Homo sapiens: one gene and its partners. The protein of the gene in region 5 purifies or fractionates together with the protein of the main gene of each other region. This does not show direct contact. Each region holds a gene or a part of one and is shown on either strand. Other genes may lie near its edges.

The links.
Region 1: the proteins of AP1S2 (region 5) and STX8 purify together in Homo sapiens (affinity purification with mass spectrometry; 2 studies listed by BioGRID and IntAct, with this or other methods). This does not show direct contact.
Region 2: the proteins of AP1S2 (region 5) and NBEAL1 purify together in Homo sapiens (affinity purification with mass spectrometry; one large-scale study listed by BioGRID and IntAct). This does not show direct contact.
Region 3: the proteins of AP1S2 (region 5) and CCM2 purify together in Homo sapiens (affinity purification with mass spectrometry; 2 studies listed by BioGRID and IntAct, with this or other methods). This does not show direct contact.
Region 4: the proteins of AP1S2 (region 5) and MYRF fractionate together in Homo sapiens (co-fractionation; one large-scale study listed by BioGRID). This does not show direct contact.
Region 6: the proteins of AP1S2 (region 5) and SEC13 purify together in Homo sapiens (affinity purification with mass spectrometry; one large-scale study listed by BioGRID and IntAct). This does not show direct contact.
Region 7: the proteins of AP1S2 (region 5) and NUDT3 purify together in Homo sapiens (affinity purification with mass spectrometry; one large-scale study listed by BioGRID and IntAct). This does not show direct contact.

What each region holds. Positions count from the first base shown.
Region 1 is NC_000017.11:9,506,276-9,509,844, forward strand, and holds part of STX8 (syntaxin-8), read right to left. Parts: intron 1-3,569. UniProt on the Homo sapiens protein: Vesicle trafficking protein that functions in the early secretory pathway, possibly by mediating retrograde transport from cis-Golgi membranes to the ER.
Region 2 is NC_000002.12:203,223,271-203,225,749, reverse strand, and holds the end of NBEAL1 (neurobeachin-like protein 1), read right to left. Parts: 3' UTR 556-2,479; downstream 1-555.
Region 3 is NC_000007.14:45,069,701-45,073,269, reverse strand, and holds part of CCM2 (cerebral cavernous malformations 2 protein), read right to left. Parts: intron 3,445-3,569; coding exon 3,309-3,444; intron 2,882-3,308; coding exon of another isoform or gene 2,733-2,881; exon of another isoform or gene 1,521-2,732; coding exon of another isoform or gene 1,398-1,520; intron 545-1,397; coding exon 487-544; intron 1-486. UniProt on the Homo sapiens protein: Component of the CCM signaling pathway which is a crucial regulator of heart and vessel formation and integrity. May act through the stabilization of endothelial cell junctions. May function as a scaffold protein for MAP2K3-MAP3K3 signaling.
Region 4 is NC_000011.10:61,755,636-61,759,204, reverse strand, and holds part of MYRF (myelin regulatory factor isoform 2 precursor), read right to left. Parts: exon of another isoform or gene 3,509-3,569; intron 2,123-3,508; exon of another isoform or gene 1,842-2,122; intron 1,717-1,841; exon of another isoform or gene 1,541-1,716; intron 1-1,540.
Region 5 is NC_000023.11:15,825,292-15,828,114, reverse strand, and holds the end of AP1S2 (AP-1 complex subunit sigma-2), read left to right. Parts: intron 1-742; coding exon 743-790; 3' UTR 791-2,309; downstream 2,310-2,823. UniProt on the Homo sapiens protein: Subunit of clathrin-associated adaptor protein complex 1 that plays a role in protein sorting in the late-Golgi/trans-Golgi network (TGN) and/or endosomes.
Region 6 is NC_000003.12:10,314,590-10,318,158, forward strand, and holds part of SEC13 (protein SEC13 homolog), read right to left. Parts: intron 3,506-3,569; coding exon 3,461-3,505; intron 848-3,460; coding exon 732-847; intron 1-731. UniProt on the Homo sapiens protein: Functions as a component of the nuclear pore complex (NPC) and the COPII coat. At the endoplasmic reticulum, SEC13 is involved in the biogenesis of COPII-coated vesicles.
Region 7 is NC_000006.12:34,284,670-34,288,169, forward strand, and holds part of NUDT3 (diphosphoinositol polyphosphate phosphohydrolase 1), read right to left. Parts: 3' UTR 1-3,500. UniProt on the Homo sapiens protein: Cleaves a beta-phosphate from the diphosphate groups in PP-InsP5 (diphosphoinositol pentakisphosphate) and [PP]2-InsP4 (bisdiphosphoinositol tetrakisphosphate), suggesting that it may play a role in signal transduction.

The DNA of each region.
Region 1 (3,569 bases), on a different chromosome or scaffold from region 5:
ACCAATTCAACAAAGAGATGAACATTAGACTCATCTTTAGAGCTCTCAACAGATTCATGAAAAATCATAGAATAAATGATGGGTGGGACATCAGCAAGATGACTGATTAGAGTCAGCTGGTGCTCACCCGCTCCCCCCCCCCCCCACCCACCTTTCTTAGGAAAGGACTAAGGCAATGAATAAACAGCTAAGATTTGACTTCAGTGTGGGAAAGTGCTGAACTGCAGTGGGGAAGTGGAGAGGCCCCTGTGGTGACTGAAAGTCTAGGAGGGCAGCATGAAGGCCCCCAGCCTCTGTGGCCCCATCTCTTCCACCAGGACTGAGGAGGCCTGGACATATGAAGGCCTTCTCCCTGTGAGGAAAAGGTAAGCGGGAGATTCCCACCTGCCCCCACTGCCACTGCAAACACCTACAGTCCTTATTACAGGAGGATCCCCCAGTCCTTGCAAGTTCTGAGCCCAGTTTGGAGAGCTGCTGGGAATTCGTACAGTTGCACTGCCCCAGATTAGGAGCATTCCCCACTCCCCACCCACTCCATGAGCCAAGTTACTACAGCATGGCGCCATCTTTAGACCACAGCTCCCTCTGGAGTGTGCCTTCCTCTTGGGGCCAGTAGCCACTGCACCTTTCCAGCACTGGGACTCCATTTTCATGCCACCAAAGCTACACAGGTGGCTGAACTCCACAACCCAGGGCTCGGGAATGGCTGTGACTCTGGTCCTGCAATGAAGGGAAACCACCCTCTGCACTTTCAGCCACAGAAACAGTCCCACCCAGGGCAAACCCACTCTTGAGCCAACCAAACTGCTGCATACCCTCCTGCAAGCAGAAGGCCCTGAGCAACTGACAGGCTAGCAGAGTGACTACGCTCCTGCATCCCGGATCTATGAAACAGTCGGGCAGTGCAGCCCCCTACAGACATGCCCCCGGCCTGCCCAAAGGCCCCACACCTCAATCAGGGCCTGAGAAACAACCCTGCAGGCTGCCCCTGGCAGACATACCCCCAGGCCAGCCAAGTAGCCATGTGTCCATATCTCAGGCCTGAAAAACAGCCCATGGGTCACCCCTAGCGGCAACTCCCCTAGGCCAGCCGAGCAGCCTTGTGTTCATATCCCGGGTCTGAGAAGCAACTCCTCAGGCCACTCCTGGCAGACATGCCCCCGGGGCCATCAAGCAGACTTATGCCCACCTCTCATGCCTGAGAAATAGCCCTGTAGGCTGTCCCCAGCAGGCATTCCCCACAGGAGAGCTGAGCAGCAGTGTGCCCATGTCCCAAACCTGAGAAACAGCCCAACAGGCCACCTCTGGCAGGCATACTCCCAGACTGGCCAAGCAACCAAGCAACTGTGCCCTCAGCCAGAGTAAGGGCACCAACCCCAACCCCAGCAAGTGAGACCCCAAGTTGGACAACCCACCATGTGAACGCATGCATCGCTGACCTGACAAATAGCCCGGTGAACACATCCCTGGCAAAGTCATGCCACCACCACCACAAAGCCTCTCAGCTGAGGCCACTGAGACACTCACAAATGTCACTGGCATGGATTACAGTTAAAGAAACTACACAAAAACTACACTACTATGCCCACCTGGAACCAAAGCCAATGCATCCCACTGAACCAACACCCCAAGATCCATTCATACAAATATTTCTTTCCCTGCAAAACCTACCACATAAAATTGGAAGAGGCAATTATTCCACCAGATGCATAGACATCAACATAGGGATACATCGAACATGAAAAAGCAAGGAAACATGACACCTCCAAAGGAATACAATAATTCCTGTGTAATAGACCCCAATGATAGAGAAATATACAAAATGACAGAAAAAGAATTCAAAATAGTAATCTTACAGTGAGATACAAGATAATAGAGCTAGACAATTTGATGAAATCAGGAAAACAATTCATGACTTGAACAAGAAATTCAACAAGAAGATAAATACCATAAAAAAGAACAAAACAGGTATCCTGGAGTGGAAGAATTCAATGAATAAGTAAATAAGTACAAGCTAGAGCTTTACCAAAAGACTAGACCAAGCAGAATTTTATTTATTTATTTTTTTGGAGACAGGTTCTTACTCTGTCACCCAGGCTGGAGTGCAGTGGCATTATCTCAGCTCACTGCAACCTCCACCTCCTGGGCTCAAGTGATTCTCCCTCCTCAGTCCTCCTGAGTAGCTGGGACTACAGGGGCATGCCATCACATCCAGCTAATTTTTGTATTTTTTGGTAGAGATGGGGTTTCACCATGTTAGCCAGGTTGGTATCGAACTCCTAATCTCAAGTGATCTGCCCGCCTTGGCCTCCCAAAGTGCCAGGATTACAGGTGTGAGCCACCATGCGTGGCTGAATTTTTGAACTTGAAGACAGATCTTGTGAAATAACACAGAAAGATGGGGGGAAGAAAAAGTAAAATGGAATGAAGAAAGCCTACAGAATTCATGGGACACTATTAAGTGAACAAATATTCACACTGTAGGTGTTCCAGAAAGAGAAAAGAAGGGCAAATGTACAGAAAACATTGAATGAAATAGTAGCTGAAAACTTCCCAAGTCTTGGGAGCTTCCAGATCCAGGAAGCTAAAAGAATCCCAAATAGATTCCATTCAAACAGGACCCCTCTTAGGCACATTAGAGTCAAATTATCAAAAGTCAAAGACAAAGAATTCTAAAAACAGCAAGAGAAGGACTGGATGTGGTGGCTCATGCCTGTTATCCCAGTACTTTGGGAGGCCGAGGCTGGCAGATCACGATGTCAGGAGTTCAAGACCAGCCTGGCCAACATGGTGAAACTCTGTCTCTACTAAAAATACAAAAAAATTAGCTGGGCATGGTGGCAGGTGCCTGTAATCCCAGCTACTCAGGAGGCAGAGGCAGGAGAATCACTTGAACCTGGGAGGCGGAGGTTGCAGTGAGCTGAGACCACGCTACTGCACTCCAGCCTGGGCAACAGAGCAAGACTCCATCTCAAAAACAAACAAACAACAATGACAAAAAGAAACCAGCAAGAGAAAAGCATCAAATCACCTATGAGGGAGTTCCCATTAGACTAATAGCAGATTTCTCAGCAGAAATCTTACCAACCAAGAGAGAATAGGATTTTATGTTCAAAGTACTAAAAGAAAAAAAAAATCTGCCAACCAAGAATATTACATGCAGCAAAGATATCCTCCAGAAATGAAAGAGAAATAAAATCTTTCACAGACAAGCAAAAACGAAGGTAATCCATCACCACTAGACCAGTCTTACAAGAAGTGCTCAAGGGAGTATTACATCTGGAAGTGAAAAGATCATAACAGCCATTATAAAAACATGTGACACTATAAAACTCACTGGTAGAGCCAATATACAAAGGAAAAAGAGAAAGAAATCAAGCCTTATCACTTCAGAACACTACCCAACCACAAAAATAAACAGTAAGAGGAAGTAAGGAACAAAGGATATAGAAAACAGCCAGAAAACAATAAAATGACAAGATAAGTCCTCACCTATTAATAATAACCTTGAATGTAAGTGAATTAAATATCTCATTAAAAGACATAGACTGGATAACTAGATTAAAAAA
Region 2 (2,479 bases), on a different chromosome or scaffold from region 5:
AGATTTATGGCATATAATCATTTGCTAAGGGAAAAACTAAAACAATGTTTGTTTTGAGACAGGGTATTTCTCTGTTACCCAGGTTGGAGTGCAGTGGTGTGATCTTGGCTCAGTGTAGCCTCCACCTGCTGGGCTCAAGCTAGAACTACAGGTGCATGCCACAATGCCTGGCTAATTTTTAAATTTTTTTAGAGACAGGGTCTCTTTATATTGCCCAGACTGGTCTTGAACTCCTGGGCTCAAGCTATTCTCCAGCCTTGGTCTCCCAAAGTGCTATGATTACAGGCATGAGCCACTGTGCCTAGCCTGTAACAATGTTTTTGAGGTAGCTCTAAAGTGAAAGGCAGAATATCTGTTGTTACATATGACAAAAAATAGTCAATTGACATGTATCTTGTGCACACAGGACTACAGAAGAAATTCTGCTCATATGAGAAAGAAACATTGATCAATTTTCTAATTAACAAATACTGTATTCAATCTCTTGTCTACCCAAATAACTTAGCCAAGGATAAGTTCTAATCAGACTCTATGAACTGAGAATTACAAATCAACTGAAGAAAGTAACATCACTTTTTTTATTTGATTCAAACCCATTTTCATATACAAAGCTAATTTATTATGTACAAAATAAATGGACATTCTTAAAAAGTATTAGAATACAAATTTCCAAGGGCCTAAAATAAGTGCAAAATTTTCAATTATCTTTAATCATGCTATACAGAAACAAATCAAGTATTAGCTCATATACACACAATGAATTTTTTAAAAATAGCACTTAATGTAATAAAACAAAACATACATCTTATATATTTAATTTTAAAAGGATGAGGAAGGAAAGAATGTATTGCACCAAACTAACAGTAACTTAACTACAATGAGAATAATCAAAATTATTTATACATCTTTATTAAAAATTGCTCAGCTTTAAAATGTTTTTGGGGGGCATACAAATATCCACTGAGTCACAGTTTGCACAGTCAATAATTAGATATAAATAAGGCATAATATTTTCTTTTTCATGGTCAATTCCAGTAGAATAAGTGAGAAGGAACATTTTAAGATAAATACACAACTTTCTGAATTCCTTCAATATTTAAGTAGCAGCACAATTTCCAAGTACTTTCAAAAAACAAGTCATTCTGAATTTTTAGTTATTACGCTCTGAATTGACTATGTGCATATACATGCATTCAAGTCACTGTCACTCTCTATAACACTGAAATGCTATTGGAGTCCCAGAAAAACTGACAAAAGAGATGAATTAAATATGTTTCATATTTTTATGCCTCAGTAGATTCATTTTTATAGCAATGAATCTGAGAGAAATGGCTATCTAGCCAGATATGATTACTTTTTGCTATATTTTTTGCTCCAAGTCTATAAAAGCAAACAACTGGAGGAATGAAAGCCATACCTGTTAAGAGTTTCTAAATGGAACCAACCAGCCACATAGTTTTCTAAGAAGTTTTCTTATATAAAGCTACTTATAAAATAAGCAGTTTGCCACAAAAAAAGTTTGGTGATGTTCATCAATCACAGTCTTTGAGAGCAGCAAAAAGCAGAATAGGAAAAAAACAGTTTAAAATATAAAAGATCTTTAATAGTAAGATCTACTATAACATGCCATAGTTTTGGAAGAAAAATAGAAATTATTATCATTAAATTGCTAAAAAGTCATCTAAGAAAATCAAAATTCCAAAATTCCAAAAGAATTATTCTTTCCAAAGGAAAAAATAAAGTTATCCTCTTTAATCCCTATATACAAAACAGACGCTGACAGTTTTTCAATTAAGTCTGACTACTGATATCCTACCAGAACCACTTCTTAAAGTGTTTAGTGATTAATATAACTTTCACATTCTGAAGAGTAAAACAATTATGTCGTATACAGACAAGTATCTTTTTCCTTCAAAATAAAGAGAAGCATTTATGAATTTGTAGGTTCATCCCACTAAATTGTAAAACATGTTGCTTAGTGTCAGAATATGTTACCAAAAGAAGACAACCCAAAATAGCATTTTAATGTTGACTAGTACACTGATTACCACAGAATTGCTAGTTTTAATACATCTTAAGTTGAAATATTACCAAAATAAAAATTTTAAAGGTCCAATTGGAATAGGACTTCTTTTAAAAAGTAGCTGAATTGATAAATTTTTAAAAATCCCACCTAAATCCTAATTTTTCTTCATCTTACATTACAATGCTACATTGTAACAGCATTACAAGCCGCTAATCACTCTGTACACTGAAAAATAATTATAAATTAATTTAAATAATGAGACAGCCATTACATAAGTGGAAACACAGACACACATATACCCCTCCACTAACAGTCAAGTTTGAAAAATGAATGGGTAATTTTTTAAATGACAAAATTGTGTTATTACTATTATTGTTATATTTGCAAAATATGTTTCCAAGGAAACATGAAAACCGTACCATGAAAAACAAATATTGAATTAGTAGCTTTCTA
Region 3 (3,569 bases), on a different chromosome or scaffold from region 5:
TCCCCGGGGGCATGGCTCTGAGTTGGGCTCTGAGTGAAGAGAGGGAGTACACAGGTCAAGGCAGTGGGCAGCATTGTTGGGCAGGGGAAGGAGCCAGGGTTGGGGAGGTGGCAGGAATGGAGAGCGCGAGTGGGTGAACTACTACAGAGCCCCAGGTGGTGGCAGAGATGGGCTGGAAGGCCAGCGCCTCGGCAGGCTCGGGCAGGGGAACAGCTCCATCCAACATGCCTATTACAAGCTCACTCTTGGGAGGCCATGGGAAGGTAGGCAGGGAGAGACAAGAGGGACAGCAAGGGCTCTAGAAGTCTACGAGGAGAGGGCGGCGAGCCAGGCCTCAGCCATTCACTAAGCTGGGTACAGTGGGTCTGGGGATGGCTTAGCGAGGGTGAGCTGAGATGGGGGAGCTGACTGGCTGCAGCCTGGACAACACCAGACAACGCATTTGGTGCGTGTCCCACCGCAGGGCTTGGTGGCATGTGCACTCACAAAGTGCTGGCTTCCACCTCGTAGGTCTCCTTAATGTCCACTTTTGTAGAAGAGTCATCTGTAAGGAAGATGCAGAAAACTAAGATGACTTTCAGGGACATAGTGGGGAGGCATTTTGAGTCCAGCCCACTGCTGTATTTACAGGAGACAGCGGCAGCCCTGGTCTTCAGGGACCCTGCTGTCCTTCATCAAGCTGCCCGCACTCTGGAATGTGCTGTGTGCCTCAGGGCAGGGCTTCCCAGACTTGAGCCCACATACACCCCTCCTGGGGATCCTGGCAAATGCAAATCCTGCTGCACGCTGGGCTGAAGTACACATTCACCCATGGCCAGAGCCAGCAAAAGCTGTCTTTGAGGTATCACTCATGTGCCAGGCAGGGTTACTGGGGCTTTGTCTCCTTTAACCCAGGCATATATCACCCCTGTCTTCACTTGTAGATTAGGAAGTAAGTCAGAGAGTTACACAACTTGGCCCAGGTCACACAGCAGAAACCACAGTCAGAGCCGGGCAGTCTGACTCCCCATCTGAACCCAGTGAAGCCACAGGATTCCCAAGACCCTCAGACCAGCAAAGGGTCTGGCACTGAGCAGCTACATTCAACAAATGACATTAGGTCCGTGTGACACAGACTGTAATTTGCTATTTCAAACCTGAGGAAGGCACATTTCACACCAGCACAGACAGTGAGTGAAAGCTTTGTGAGCGAGGCAGGTGAGTGTTGCAGAGAGGGTAAGATTTTAAATGAAGCAGAGGGAGAGGCTGAGAGATAAAAGGGACATTTCTGGCACTAGGAACAAGGTAAGTATGGAGGGCAGAATAATGACCCCCCAAAGACGTCCACATCCTAATCCCTGGAATTGGTGAATATGTTACCAATTTCAAAGGGGAGTAAAGGATGCTTATCAGCTGACCTTGAAATAGGGAGATGACCCTGGAGAATTTGGGTGGGCTCAATGTGATTGCAAGAGTCCTGAAATGCAGAGGAAGCTGACAGTCAAAGGAAGATGTGACTGTGGAAGAGGTCACGTGGCTGGCTGTGAAGACAGAGGAAGGGCCATGAGCCAAGGCATGCAGCCGCCTTTAGGAGCTGGAAAGACAAGGAAATGGCTTCTTCTCTGGAGCCTCCAGAAGGAACCAGCCCTGTGGACACCTCAACTTTAGCCCAGTGGGACCCACAATGGACTCTTAACGTATAGAATTATAAGAGAATATATTTCTGCTGTTTATGCTGCTATGTTTTGGCATAGCTGTAGTAGAGAGAACACAGCAAGCAAAACTCCAAGGCAGAAATAAGCAGAGAATGCATGCATGTGCGTAACGTGTGCACATCTGTGTGTGGATCCCACGGGGAGGTCTTGGGAAAGGCTGGCAGGGGAAGAAGCCCACTTCAGCAACCCCCAGTAGTGGTGTTACATGATGTGTTTACTTTATGAAAATTCATTCAACTGTACATGTATGACTTGTGTACTTCTCAGTAAAAAAAAAATTATTAAAGAAAAAAAGGCCCTTTGGGAATTTTAAAGCACAAGGGCCAAACCAGTCGCACTAAAACTGAATGTTTAATTACAGCTCGATAAATCATCTGCTACTCATATGGTACATTCCTCTGGATAAGCTGTTGACTTCTAAGCCTCCACTTCCCCATCTCTAAAATGGGGATGAAGATTGCACCTATCTCGCTGGGCCACCGAGGACTAAATGAGATAGAGAGGATGCCTGAGAGCTCAGCAGCTGTCTCTCTGCAGCTGCTGGGCCAACACAAGGCGTGTAGTGCCCACAAAGGGCTCTGGCACCAGCAGCAAGAAAGGGAAGAAGGAGGCACTGAGGAGCAGCCCTCACACCAGCACAGGCTTCTCCACCATTTACTCTCTTCACTGAGATGTGCGAGTTACTGGGGAAAGGGCAGAGGGCTGGGACTTATCTCCGTAAAAAGAAGAAATTGTACTCAACAAGCCGCACTGTTTCCAACAGCCTTTTTTTTTTTCTTGGTATTTTTTAGTAGAGACAGGGTTTCTCCATGTTGGTCAGGCTGGTCTTGAACTCCCGACCTCAGGTGATCCGCCCGCCTCAGCCTCCCAAAGTGCTGGGATTACAGGCATGAGCCACCACACCCAGCCTCCAACAGCTTTTTATGCACCTCAATTTATATAACCCATTAATCCTCAATAAGTAATACATCTGAAAAACAGATGATGTTTTTGAAGACTTAACTCAAGTGAGCTTGCTGATGAAGTGTTTTCAATGGACTAACAGACTCCTGAAAATGCTGTGTGGGCCATGCAGGAAGAGACAGCTCTGGGGTACCTTCCATTCTTCCCCATCTGCCACTGCTCCACCACTGCCAGCTGGCCTCCCAGGGCAGCCTGAGCAGCTTCCCATGGGTCTGGCCATGGTCCTGGAAGGAGTTTCACATTAAGAGCAGCCATAGTCTGGGCATACTGAAAAGGAGGCTCCCCAGACCCACTCTCAGCCTCCCCAATTCCATCACAGGCCCCAGTGCTAGGAGCCTTCTCCAAGCTCTTTGTTCCGAGTTAAGTGAAGTGACTTTAGCCACAAGTGGTTCCAAAAAAGTGTTCACAGACCCCAAATTTATTCCAGGAAGCCATAGCGCTGACCTGGTGCAACTCTCTCAAGGACAGGTGACACTTCTGCCTTCATGAAACCCTATGGGCTAATGTGAACAGCAAAGTCTGGAAACAAAAGGCCACCATGTCACGGCAGTAACTGCGCTATTCCAGGAGTAACTCATGGGGAGCTGGGGGCCACTGCAGTAGCCCCTCCTGTCCCTGCTCCCACCCGCTGCCCACTCTCACTCAACATACCGCTGTGCAGGGACAGGTGGTGGGTCGGGGTAGAGGCCCCATCAAATATCGCTCTGTCCAGAAAGTCGATGGTGGACTCCGTGTAAACAACCTGGAAGACCTGGCCTAGCAGACAGCAAAGCTCCTCCGCAGCGACCTGCAGTGGGGGACAGCAGCTGCTCGGTCAGTCTGGCTGGAGACTGCGCCTTCCCAGGCGGCTTCCAGGATACCTGGGGCAGCCCAGATGCTCAATAAACATGAATGAAGAGTGGATACCAGAAT
Region 4 (3,569 bases), on a different chromosome or scaffold from region 5:
ACTCTCTCCCACAGGGACCAGGGCAGGCAGGCCACCAGGTGCCAGGTAGAGACCCTGCAGCTTGGGGTGGACACAGGTCTCCACCAGGGTCACCTGTGCCCATCTGTGCCTACACACCGGCGTGGCCCCACGCAGGCACACTGCCAACACACACACATATATGTAAGGGCACACCCTGCAGTCAGGTATCCACTGACATGCGCATGATCACGTACCACCTGCCCCCTACTCACACATACACAGTACTGACACACAGTGGCATGCCCCACACATATACCCACACACATGCGCACACCAGCGTTCATCCGTGTGCCTTCATTCATTCAGCAGTTATTTACTGAGCACCTGTTATGTGCCAGGCAAGCATAGTGCCCAGCTTTGGGGCTACAGCAGTGAGCAAAAGGGACAAAAGCCTTGCCCACATGGAGCTGACATTCTAGGGAGCAGAGTCAGATGACGAGAGCAGCAAAATGCCTAGCATTCTAGAAGGTTCCAGATGGCGGGGACAGCCGGTGCAAAAGCCCTGAGGTACGAGCATGCCTGTGCATGTTCACACCTCAGCACACTTCACAGGTGTATATGCCAGGACACGCATGTACACAAACACTCACTGACCCGACGACAGGCCCAGGCCCACAGGCACAGCGTCACATGCATGGGTTAGGTTAGTGGCCACCCAGGAAGAGCTCCCACCTCCTCTTCTTCCCTCCAAGCCCCCTCCCCGCCTGCTGTCAGACCCTCCCTAAGCAGCTCCGGCTGGAGCCAGGCCCCACTGAGTGAACTCAGTGTCACAGGCACAACTTCCCTCCTCCAAGCTAGCAGGGCAGGGGATGGGGATCCCCTTGCCCCAGCCATAGAGGGAGAAGAGAGGGGAGTGAGGGAGGCCGGAGGGAGATAGGATCCTCAAACTCCACAAAGGAGAGACAGAGGCTGTGGTTGTGCACTCCGGTGGCTGCACGGACCCCGGTCAGCTGGAGGGAGAACTTCCCTCACTGATGCGACCTGGGGCACAGGGAGGACAGAATGTCCGGGAGCCCCCTCCATACTCTAGGCCGGCAGGGGGCTCCGGACCCAACTGTACTCCCCACCCAGGGGCTTTGCCCCTCCCCCCCTCACTCCAGGCCTTGGCACTCGTGGGATCTAACTGCTAACATCACCCAACCTTGACCATGTGAGTGAGGGCTCTGAGGTCTAGAGAGGTCAAGGAGGCTGCACGGACATCACCTGGCGTGGCCACCCGTGCTGGAGCCACCCCTCAGCATGTCAGGAGGAGAGGCCCCTTCCCTGCCCATCCCAGGCTGGCACAGAGCTGGGACCCAGGCTCCAGTCCCAGCTCTGTTGTGGCCACCTTGAGGGAGCCTGACACATCATCGCCTTCCTGTCCTGCCTCACAGTCCCCCTCAGAAATGGGAGGCCGTCACCCACGCTTCCACTGCACCCCAGGACTCCAGGAAGACAACGTGCAAAGAGCCTGGGTGCAGCAGATGAAGTCACAATACAGCCAAGCCCCTCCTCCTTGCTGGCAGCAAGAACAGAACCCAAATCTCAGAGGGGGAGGTGGGGCGGGCCCCACTGGATGTGCCAGGGACCAGGACCAGGCCACGCTGGGCCAGAGCTGTCATGGTTCAGGCCTTGCACACAGAACCACAGAACATGCTCAACAAGCCCCCTAAGCTTAGGGGCACTGACCTACCCTGGGGACCAGTAATCTTCAAGGTAGGGCGCAGAACACCTGCCATGGACCAATGGAGTGTTCACCAGGCCAGGCACAATCTTACCTAATCACCCCAGAAACCCTGGGACGGAGGCCCTGCCATTACAACTGCACTCCCGTTTTACAGATGAGAAAGCGGAGGCACAGCGGTGCCCTGATACGGCCAAGAGAAGCACTGTGGGTAAGCAGGAGAGCTAGGAACAGACCCCAGCTGCCCTCGCTGGCGAATGCACAGAACCATTACATCATCCTACCCCGAGACCCAACCAAGAGGTACCCACACCCCGTGGCAGCCGGGGCTGAAGGCCTGGAGATAGGAGAGGAGGCCCCACATACTCCAGCACCCAAGGCAATGAGAGAAACTGAGGCCCAGGAAGGTGCTAGGTCCGTGAAGAGGAAGGTGGGAAGGTAAGGCAGGCTGCCTGGGTAGGGCGGGGCCACCCAGTTAATGATTCAGTTAATAATTTCTGCTCCCAGTTCCTTATCAGGGAGGGCAAAGTCCAAGGGTGGCAGCCAATGAGCAGCTCTGCTGGGCTGTTACCCAGCAGCCTCTGCTGCCAGGGCCCTCCAGTCTGTAACCCCTTGGGAGTTGGTAATTGGGGAGTCAGGCCCCCAGGGAAAAGGCCATTCTGCCCTCAAATGCCCTCCTTGGCTCTACTTAAGACCCCAAGGAGCACTCTGTCCAGCCTTCCAGTCTCAGGAGAGTCCCTGAGGCCAAAGGGTTGGTAACTGCCTGTTTCTCACCCCTGCACTGACCCCAGGCCCTCCAGAGAGGTGCTTTCTGGGGTGCGTCCCCCACCCCCGCCGCCTCTGTTCACATACCCATTGTTGTCACCATTGACCCGGAGAGCACTTCCTGCCCACCCCCCACCCCTGCCCTGCACTGGGTGCTGGGGACATGGGGATGAGTCAGACCCCCTACTACCATTTCCTCCCCTGCCTGGGCTCAGGAAACCCTGTGCCTGGCCACCCCTCCCATCTACTTACTCCCTGGGTGCACCAGGGACAGACAGAGACAGGCTGACACGGGCCACAGTGCCACCCCCATCACGAAGCCCAGCTCAGCCCCCGGATTCCTGTCCAGGTGGGAGTCCTCTCTTCCAAATCATCAGGTAGTCTCTACCTGGGACCTCCTCCTGCCCTCTGGAGGCAGAGATGTTGGTCCCTGACAGGTAGCCCCCTCAACCCCAAGGTACTGGTGGCAGAGTAGGGAGCTGGGGGCTAGGTGTCCACTCTGGCTAACTCTGGCCAACTCCCTTCTCTCTGAGCCTCAGCCAGCGCCATTCCCCTCCCCTTACCCATCCCACAGCCGGGAAGGGTGGCTTTCAAACCAGTATCCTGGTGCTTCAGGGGCTGTGAGGAGCCCAGCCCCCATTATCCACTGTATCTGTCCTATCAGGAGACTATGAGTTTGTTTGATGGTTAAAAAATCACATTGGAAGCCCCTGCTCTGGTCCAACCCACTTACTTACCCTGGGAGGGGAATGAGGCCAGAGAAGGAAGTCACCAGTCCAGCCACCCATCAGCTTCAGAAGGGGCGAAATCCCAGGCCTCCCTCCTCCAGCCCTGGTGGGGCTCCAGAGGCCGGGCAGAGGCCCACTAAACTCCAAGTGGTCTTTCCAGCACCTGCTGGAAGGCGACTTCCCTCCATCCTCCAAGGCTCCCTGCACACCCACCTGCTTTCTGGGGGACACTGGTTGCTCACTCGAGCCTCATGTGCCCCTAGAATCTAGGGCCAGCAGGCACCCCTTCCAGGCTCGGCCATTCATACTCTAACATGTCTCTCCTTCCCAGGGCTGGGCAGTGAGCTTCTTCAGAGCTGAGGTTCTTCTCTGCCACCCCCTCCTGTCTTGCA
Region 5 (2,823 bases):
TTCGTTGCTAGTAATACCTGAAAGTTGGCCTCCTTGGTCCTTTATTTTGTGATTTGCAAAATCAGCCACTTTGGAAAATTATTAAATAATTTTTTCCTGGATATGCTTACTTTGTTTTGACCTCCTTTGACACTTAAAAACCAGTGCTGGTTGCTACATAGAATAAAAATGCCTTTGGCCCATGGCATTCTTTGCATATGTGGCCTCTAGTGATGCCATTGGTTGCACTGGGGAGGTCTGGGAAGATAGCTGTTTCTGAAGACTTGCCGCTGTGGACACAGTTAACTAAAAACTCCAAGAGGAAGACATTTCTATAAATGCATGTGACAAAAAGCATGGAACACAACAGTAGGCGAAGAACTGTGGGAACTCGGAGGGAAGAGGTTTTGAATTTTACCACTAAGATAACTTATCTTTCATATATATAATTGAGTAGCAGTGATTTCATAAATTGCCAGCAGGTTTGCACTGGGCTTGACTGCTTTTTGCATGACAGCAACGGCATCTAGCACATTGGTAGGTAATTAGCAGGTACTTAATGAATGCTGAAAACGTCCTTTTGTGGTCTCCAATTTTGAGGGCACAAAACCCTAAATAACCAATGGCTGTCAACTAGAATGCTACTGTGACACGAAATTGCTTTCTTGATTCTCTAAAACAAGCATGTTCTTCCATGTCAATGTTTCACATTCTCAAGACTCCCTGGATCTGCTTACCAGAGTCTCACATTTTCCCTCCACAGGAAGCTGAAACCCCACGTAGTGTTCTTGAAGAAATTGGACTGACATAACTCTCCTCCCTTGTTGATGACTTCTTGTGGCATTTCACACACTGTAGATGGTCACTCCCTTCATGTCCATGTTAGCTCATGGTGTAAGATGATGTCTTGTCAGTATTACTGTTTTGCTAAGCCGCTTCATTCATGCCTACACAATTTTTTTTTAAAAGGGAACTTTAGTTAATTAAGTGATAAGGGACTTAAATATGAATTAGAATGGTGCAGAAAGAGATACCTTTTCTGGATATTTTAAAGTTTAAAGGTCAGTTTCTCTTAATCTGATTATGTGCACATATGAAAATGGCACATCATATACATGTAAAATCAGGCAGTATACATTTATTAATTACTGTATTTGACAAAGGAAACTCTTAAATTATAATGTGAAACCTGGTTTTATGAAACCAAAGACTAGTGCAGCATTTCAGCATATGTAAAAAAAAAAAAAAAGGGAATTGACATGTCACATATCAAATGAATGGAAACTTTGTTGAAACTTTAAAAAGCAAATTTACTCCAAAGACTTGTATTGGAAATTACATACCTTTTTTTTTTTTTTTTAAAGGACTACAGATTATTTTTAATGACTAAATTGGAGTGATACTTCTTACACTAAAAATTATTTCTTAGGCATTCTGAATCTGGGATGAGAAACAGGATTGTTTCACAATAGTAAGCACATAATTTTTAAGGCCAAGGCACATTTGACTCCTGAGATGAATTTTTTGTGGTCATAATCAAATACTTAGTTGTTTTTGATGCCCCAAAATAAAGTGAGAATGGTAATTTGCCAGGAATTCTTCATAACAGTATCTTACAAAAAACGTGTTGCTCTCTTCACAGTATTATGTGTAAAGTCATTGTTTAAAGCACGAATGTTCCCTCTGGGGTACTTGTTAAAGCTAAATTTATTTTGCTTCCCTCCACTTAGAAGTGCTGCACACTTTACAGCAGCTTCCTTTCTTTCCATGGCACTGCCTAGTTAACAGAAGTCTTATAAAAATTTAAAAAGACACATTTCTTACAAAAAAGAGTTGAATGAGGTAAAATGGCATTAGATGGCTCTATATTTTTTAAAGCTATGTAATTGTTCAGCGTCACTTTTCTAAGTACTTATACATATCTAAACATGTCTTCATGGTTTATATTTTCACTTATATATGCTGGGCTGGATTAAGCTTTGTTGTGATTGTGACCAACATTCAGGCCACGTGAGCACTGTCTTATCACATCGCCAATTAGTTGTAATAAACGTTCAACGTACAAACACTGGAGTGTGTTTTTATCTCTTTCCAAAAGTTTGTCAAACTATGCAGAGCTGCTGAAGGAAGAATTTCTCATTTTTTTTTCAGTAAAATGTTGAAAATTCCCCTCCATTTGAATATGGTGGTTGTTATAAGCACACACAAGATACATGGTGGAAGATCTAAGGAGTCTTCATGTACTTCATTAAAAAATAACATGGATTCCATACTGAGAGCCTATCTACACATTTATTTTCAATCAATAAATGCTGCTTTTAAAACCTTGATGCAGTTGACTTTTCTACTCTTTCTGAATGAACAACTTAGACTGTTACTCAAAAGGTATTTCAAATCAACTGGATTCCTCTTACCCCCTTGTGAACTGAAGGTGCTAGCACATGCAACAGAAAGGGACTAATACTTGCAGACTGTACTACCTAACCTATGCAACAAATCAAATCTATGGTAATCATGATAGTTAAGGGACCTCCTATTACTACAGATAGGAAATGTTACATTCTAAAACTGGGCTATTTAAGAAGGAGGCAGGAACTACCATCAAATTAAGTTGCTAGTCTACTGGAAAAAAAGACGTTTATAGGTTTAAAAAGCCTCCAACATGCAGCTAGCTATTCACTGAAAACAGGCCTGTGGGTTTCTGCTAGCAATGTATAGTTGGAATTTTTGAAACATAAATAGTAATCAGGCAATATATATTAAAAAAAACTAATAAATTTAAGTTCAAGATGGACATTTATCAGGATAATGAACCAGTCAGTGGTTTAAAAACTTCCTGCCCTT
Region 6 (3,569 bases), on a different chromosome or scaffold from region 5:
TCAACCCCTGAACTCTATTCACAGAACCCTTGGAGATCCACGGCACCCAGGCAAACCCACAAATACGTGAAAGGCAGTGAGCTGAGGGAAAGCAGTAGAGATGTGGCCATAAAAATGAGCCAGGACTTCCTCAAGAATCTCAGTAGGGAGCAGGGCAGGTCAAACATTTGTAAATAATCACTGAACACGTGCCACGGGCATATAGGCAGAACAATGGGATTTATAAAATGATAGCATTCTTACATTATTCTTACGGTGATGCTTTTGTGACACTTTAGGTCATACTGGCTAAACTTGAACGAAATGGTACTGTTTACCACTTTTAAAAGTAGCAGTAGCTGCCTGCACTAAAGACTTACTGTGTCCTGGGCCCTGTGTCAGGGCCTTGCATACACTAGCTGGATAGGAGGTAGCATTGGCCCAATTTTGAGGATGAGCAGATGAAGGCTCTGAGAGAGAAACTGAGTCACTTGCCCAAGGTCTTCTGGTGGGTACACATAAAGTGGCAGAGCTGAGATTCACACCTGTATCCACCTGTGCCCTTAACAGCATCATCCCTGGGGACGTCCGCTGAGGACAGCCAGGCTGGCTGGGATCCCAGCGTCCTCTCCGCTAAATGTGCTTTGGGGTTGCTCTGAATCTGGGCTCCCATGCTTTGCTCCCACGCTTGAAGCAGGGCCTGAGAACCCACACCATTCCTGGAGCCCTTCCCTGGGCTCGCCAGCACTTACCCCCTGAGGTCGGCGATAAGGATCTGCCCTCCATTGCGCACATCAAAGATTTTGACGGACCTGTCTGATGAGCAGGTTGCCAGGCGGGTGCCATAGTAGTCCATCTGGGCGTCGTGCTGCAAAGGGAGGACAGCTCGGGAAGCCTGCAGGCTGGGTGGGTGGGTGGGTGGGGTGAGGGCTGTCACTACACAGAGTCTAGTTTGGACCAGAATCTCCCTGAAATCAATCTGATCTCAAAGTATCATCACCCTCAGGCAGGAAGCTAGCATGTGGACATTCTCACTTCACCTATGGGCAGTGTCTCTCTGAAATGGACAAAGCAAGCCATGCCCAGCTGGTGTCACAGACCCTTTACATACCTCAGGGAAGGGCTCTTCCATTCCTGTTCCGCAGGGTGGGTATGGGAGAAAAAAAGTTGGCCTAGCTGCCCTCTTCTTCCTCCATCCTCTCAGGCCCTATTCAGTTCTTAGGCTCTGTGGGCTAAAGGGGAATACCCCTGGGTTCAGCTCAGCCCTAGCACCTGATGCTAATGCATGGGAGCAGGCCAAAGGAGTGGGCCTCTGACTGCCTGGAGTCCCCAGTCAGGTCTTCTGTGATGCAGCTCTGGCCTGCACACAGGGTTCCATTCAGATATTTGGGCTCTTTCCAGCCCTGGCCCTGGATCCTTTGTGGACCTTTGTTTTGGGGCTTCTGCTCGACCTTTTCCCTAGTAGTGTGCCCAGAGCTTCCCAGACTTTCCACCCAAGGAACACAATGCCTTAAGTGTCGCTGCTCTCACCACTTGTGAACCGAATTCCTTGATGCTGACTGAGCATGCAGAACTAGGCCTGGCCCCTACCTGCAGATCCTTGTCCGCAGGGTGATGGTCTCTGAGGCACCATGCCTCCTGCACCACTGAACACCCTGGTCCCTTCTGCTTGCTGGCCCTGCCTATTCCAATGGATGTCCCTTTCCCCAGCTGTCCCACCCTGGGAGTTTCAGGACTATCAGCTGCACTCCCATGGCCACCAGGGGCAATTATGCCCATTCAAAGGCACTCATTCTGTCTGGCTCAGATGGGAATTCTCACCTCCCTACGCAAGGAACACATCCTGATTTTTCTTTGGGAACTCCCTCCACTGTATCAGGCCTTGGTTTCTTGGAGGGCAGGCAGTAGAGGAGTGTTTCTGAAGCACTTCTCATGCTTCTCAGTGGAAGGAGGCAGGACATAGTACCTTTCAGATCTAAATCCTATCTCCTTAGTTTACCTGCTGTGCAAACTTTGAAAACACTTCATCTCCTTGAGCTTCAGTTTCCTTATCTTTATTATTTACCAACATCCTATGGGCCTTAGTTCCCTTATCTTTAAATAAGGCTAAAGATAGCATCTGTCTCAACAGTTGTTATGAAGGTTAAACAAGATATTGAATGAAAACTCACGCCTGTAATCCCAGCACTTTGGGAAGCTGAGGCGGGCGGATCACCTGAGGTCGGGAGTTCGAGACTAGCCTGACCAACATGGAGAAAACTTGCCTCTACTAAAAATACAAAATTAGCTGGGAGTGGTGGCGCACGCCTGTAATCCCAGCTACTCGGGAGTCTGGGGCAGGAGAATTACTTGAACCCGGGAGGCGTAGGTTGCGGTGAGCTGAGATCACGCCACTGCATGCCAGCCTGGGCTACAAGAGCGAAACTCCATCTCAAAAAAAAAAAAAAAAAAAAAGAAAAGTACTTAGCATGGGGCCTGACACTCAGTGAGCATGCAAATGTTTGTCATTACTACTTGGCCTCATCTAGTTCTCAAACCAAACTCATACGAGTAGGTAGCATATCCATTATTTTTCCCGTAAGTAAATTGAGGCTGGCTCAGAAAAGTTAAGATATTGGCTAGGGAGTCTCAGACTGGGTCTTCCTGCCCATGATTCCATGCTATCTCCAAGGAGGTGTGGTCTTACAGCTAGACCACTCATGACTGAATCCAGAGAACATATACAACTCTGGGACCAGACAACCTCTCAGAAACCCAAAAGCAACTGTTGGTGGACAGGTTGTGAGGGCAAGAACCCTGACATGAAACACTGTCAGCCAGCTGTCCTGGGTCTTGCTCAAAGGCTGCTTGGCCCTGAATGAAGCAGAGTCTGTGTTTTTCCTGCGGTAGACTTTAACCTCTGGACCTTCTCCTGCAGCCCTGTCCTCTTATACTGAGCCTTGTGTTTACCTCTCAGGAAATGCCCTGAGTGTGGACTTCTGGTTCAAAGGGCCTTGTCTGGCCTATTGTCTTGGTGGTTTGACTGGGCTCTGCCTGGGGCTTTCACTGTGGCTGCCCTCTGCCTTTGTATTGAGTCATCTTTCTACACTCTCTTCTTTTCACCCCCCTTTCCAGTGGGGCTAAGAAGTGACAGCAGGAGGAAGACAGGTGGGAAGACTATTGTCAAGCCTCCGTACCCACTCAGCCTTCATCCGAGAGCAGGTTATTGTATTGGCTGGAAGACTGACAGCCTAGAACTACAAATTATTCCCAGGTTCCTCCCAGCAGAGAGTGATTAGACTGCCACAGTCCTGACAACTCAGAGGGCACTGCTAGGGAGCCTGCCATACCCCGAGATTACAGGCTGATAGGCAACCACTGCAAAGCCACCCTGGATCCATGAATGATCAACAGAAAGGGGTAATGAAAACCCCAAATTGCTTCCCTCCCACAAAAATGCCCATGTCCACACCCCTCCAGGGAGGGTGATATTAATACTTACAATCATGTCCTCATGGGAGGTATCCACAGTGTTAATTACTGACACCTAGAACCAAAGATATCACTGGTAAATTAACTCATGGCAGTTAGAATACAACCATCTCAAGTTC
Region 7 (3,500 bases), on a different chromosome or scaffold from region 5:
CTGGTTAAGAAGGTTTAGCAGGAGCCTCCAATGAGCACTGTATGTAGAGAAAAGGGAAGGAGCAGGAGGAGGAACAGATCTGCACAGAATTTTTTTCTTAAAAACCACAAAGGGTGACTTTTTTCTTCTAAGCAAGCAAGCCTGAGAGGCATTACATGGGCTGGCTCCTAATATCAAAACAAAATATTTCTTTGCCACAAAGGAACTTGACTATGTAGCAACACATTTACAAAACTACTGCAAAACACTCCCAGAGGGCAGTGACCTACTCTGCTCCCCAGAGGCTCCAAGAAGCAAGGCCTCAAGTGCCTCATGTTCCATGGGGCTGTGCAGTGCAATGCAGAAGGCGGAAATCCTGCTGTGACGCCACCCTCGAGACCTTCTGCAGCCTGAGAGGGGGTGATACTCCCACACCCTTTGATCCTTCCAGATGGCTCAGCCTAGATCTAGCAGTGAGAGAGCCCTCTCCATGCAGGGCAGATGGAGTGGTGGACACTTGTGAAAACAAAACACTAACTGTTCCATCCTGTTATATTTGCTGTGAGGAAAATTAAGATTCCTGTTGTATGGGCTGCACTGTTTCTGGAAGACTACAGAAAATCTAACATGGTTGACACTTCCTGGTAGCCCTTCTGTACATACACACACACACACCCAGAGAGAAGACAGAGAGAAAATCCTGGTCCAAAAGATCACATGACCTTACTAGTGTTTCCCCAATGACTGTAATTTATAAACTAAAAATTTTTACAAATCCACTGCTATCTTCTTCTGTCCTGAGTTTGGTAGACTTTAATGGATGCTCCAGCAATAACCAGAATCTAGGACATGCAGACTCACTGTGAGCGAGAGGCTAGGGATCTGCCCTAAACATAGGAACCTGTTTCTATCAAGCCTGAATGAGGTCAGCTCTGGTAGAATTAATGACAAATCAATGTCAGTGAAATATTCTGCAAACAGGGTAGCTTTTGTGCTTTCTTTTGATTATTTTCTTTGGGGAGATAAAGGTATTGCAACCATGGGTCTAACTAATCTATCACTAAAGGACTGTGACGACATTCTCAATAAAGACAGTCATGGTGTTTACTGTGCCAAGGAGGGAAAATCCCAGATCATCAGAATCCCAGTGCAACAGAAAACAGCACCAGTTTCAACAATTCTGATGTTGGACAAAGCCTCTTTTTGTCAGTTAAGAAAGCGTAAGCACAATCTCTCAGTCAATTGCATTAACAGGAATCCATTCATGTCACTGAAAAATACTTCTTGGCACAGTTCACTTTCCTGACCCAAAGACACCAACAACAATCAAAACTGCACTTTCAGGGTAGTATATTGTTACACTAGCCCAGTCAAAACATACTCAGAACATTTAAAAATGTATAAATTACTGTTAGCACTGCAGTTCCGTTTTATTTTCTTATTTATTTATTAAGACAGAGTCTTACTCTGTTGCCCAGGCTGGAGTGCAGTGGCATGATCTTGGCTTACTGCAACCTCTGCCTCCCAGGTTTAAGCAATTCTCATGCTTCAGCCTACCAAGTAGCTGGGATTACAGGAGTGCACCATCATGCCCAGCTAATTTTTGTATTTTAGTAGAGATGGGGTTTTGCCATGTTGGTCAGGCTGGTCTCAAACTCCTGGCCTCAAGTGACCCACCTGCCTTGGCCTCCCAAAGTGCTGGGATTACAGGTGTGAGCCACTACACCCAGCCCTGCAGTCCCTTTTTAAAGAGTACTGACTGTTTTCCTGCAAAGTACTTTCAAATCCATACCATAAAGGTAGAATTTATCTGGAAGAATGTGTTTTTTGAATTCCACCTGGCACTTGGTTAAATCTACTTTATTTTGCCCTTTATTTATTTGAACAGAACTTTAGAATGCTCTAGGTCAGGAAAAGAAACAGTGTGTTCGTTTTTAAGAAGGATGTGTGAATAGTAAGTTGGCATTCAGACTCAAGTCCCATGGTATTGTTCTTATCCAATGGGACCTCTCCTTGGGAATATAATTCCTTTCCCAGAGGTATCATGGTATCCCAAGAATATAACTGCTCTTTGGCTCTGTGTGTGAAGATTGGGGGAGAGGATGTAAACTAAGAGTATATAGCAAAAAAAAAAAAAAAAATTTTTTTTTTTTTTTTTTGAGATGGAGTTTCACTCTTATCACCCAGGCTGGACGACAGTGGTGCAATCTCGGCTCACTGCAACCTCTGCCTCCCAGGTTCAAGCGATTATCTCGCCTCAGCCTCCCAAGTAGCTGGGATTACAGGCGCCCACCTAATTTCTGCATTTTTAGTAGAGACGGGGTTTCACCATGTTGGTCAGGCTGGTCTCAAACTCCTGACCTCAGGTGATCCACCTGCCTCAGCCTCCCAAAGTGCTGGGATTACAGGTGTGAGCCACCGTGCCCAGTGAGTAGACAGCAAAATTTAAAGTTCACCAACTGATGTTCCCAAAAGTGCTGAACACTAAATGACACAGGGCTATGAGGTACATACATTTCTTTTAGTAGGAGGGAAAAGTAAAAGCTTTTCAAAGTTTGAGTGCTTTATTAGAATTTTTAAATGAGGCGAACTATGATTTTAATTTCACATCTTGGCTAAGGAGATGCCACTGGAGTACAGAGATAATCTCCTGTCTTAAGCCACGGATCAGTCAGTGTAGCCCTCCCTACCCCTCAATCTCAAGACCCTCTTACTTCCGAACTAAACAACACAATTGGCAAATGAAGCCAGCACGAAACTGTATCAAAAAACAAGAGAGTCTGCAGTGAGCCAGTGTATTATGTAACCACTGTAATAAGTGATTACGTGGCCTCCCATATGGACCTTTCATATCCTGGTGGGAGATGGGAGACCAATTTAATAGCTCTGAGCATGCTCCATGGTGCAATCACAAGTGCCATGCCAATACAAAGACAAGCAAGCAGGTGAATTTCCCTAGTGTACTTTTCAGGAACACGGTTACTCAGTTCAGGGACAGGACTACATTGATGCACCTGCAAAGTAAAGTTGGATGCTTCAGAGCACATGGATGATACCCAGGTCAGCACGGTGTAAGGCATATATGGACACAAAGAGAGGCCATTGTTGGCAATAAATAGCATTACGGAAAAGATTCCAAACCAGCAGAACAGAAATGGACCTGATGCTCCAGTTTTTTAGATAAGTAATCCCAAGAATCCAGTTCCAACTCTACTGTCAACATGTGGGGCAGAATTCAATTTCTATCATTGTTTTTACAGATCTGGGCTGAGGCCATTTGCTCCTTGCTTGGTTAAAAAAAAATAAAAAAATAAAAAAAGGTTTCTTCCTGTTTCTTTCTGGGCAGGGAAATACAGCTTAAAGAAGGAAAGGCCATGAGTCCTGGGAGCACTATGAAGGTAGCTAAACTCTTCCCATATCTACAGTCAATGACTGGGAAATAGAGAAAGGACAGGGCAACCTGCCCAGCCACTAGCATCGAAAACAAAAAGGTATGTTAATTGTGAGGCTCTCAATTCTAG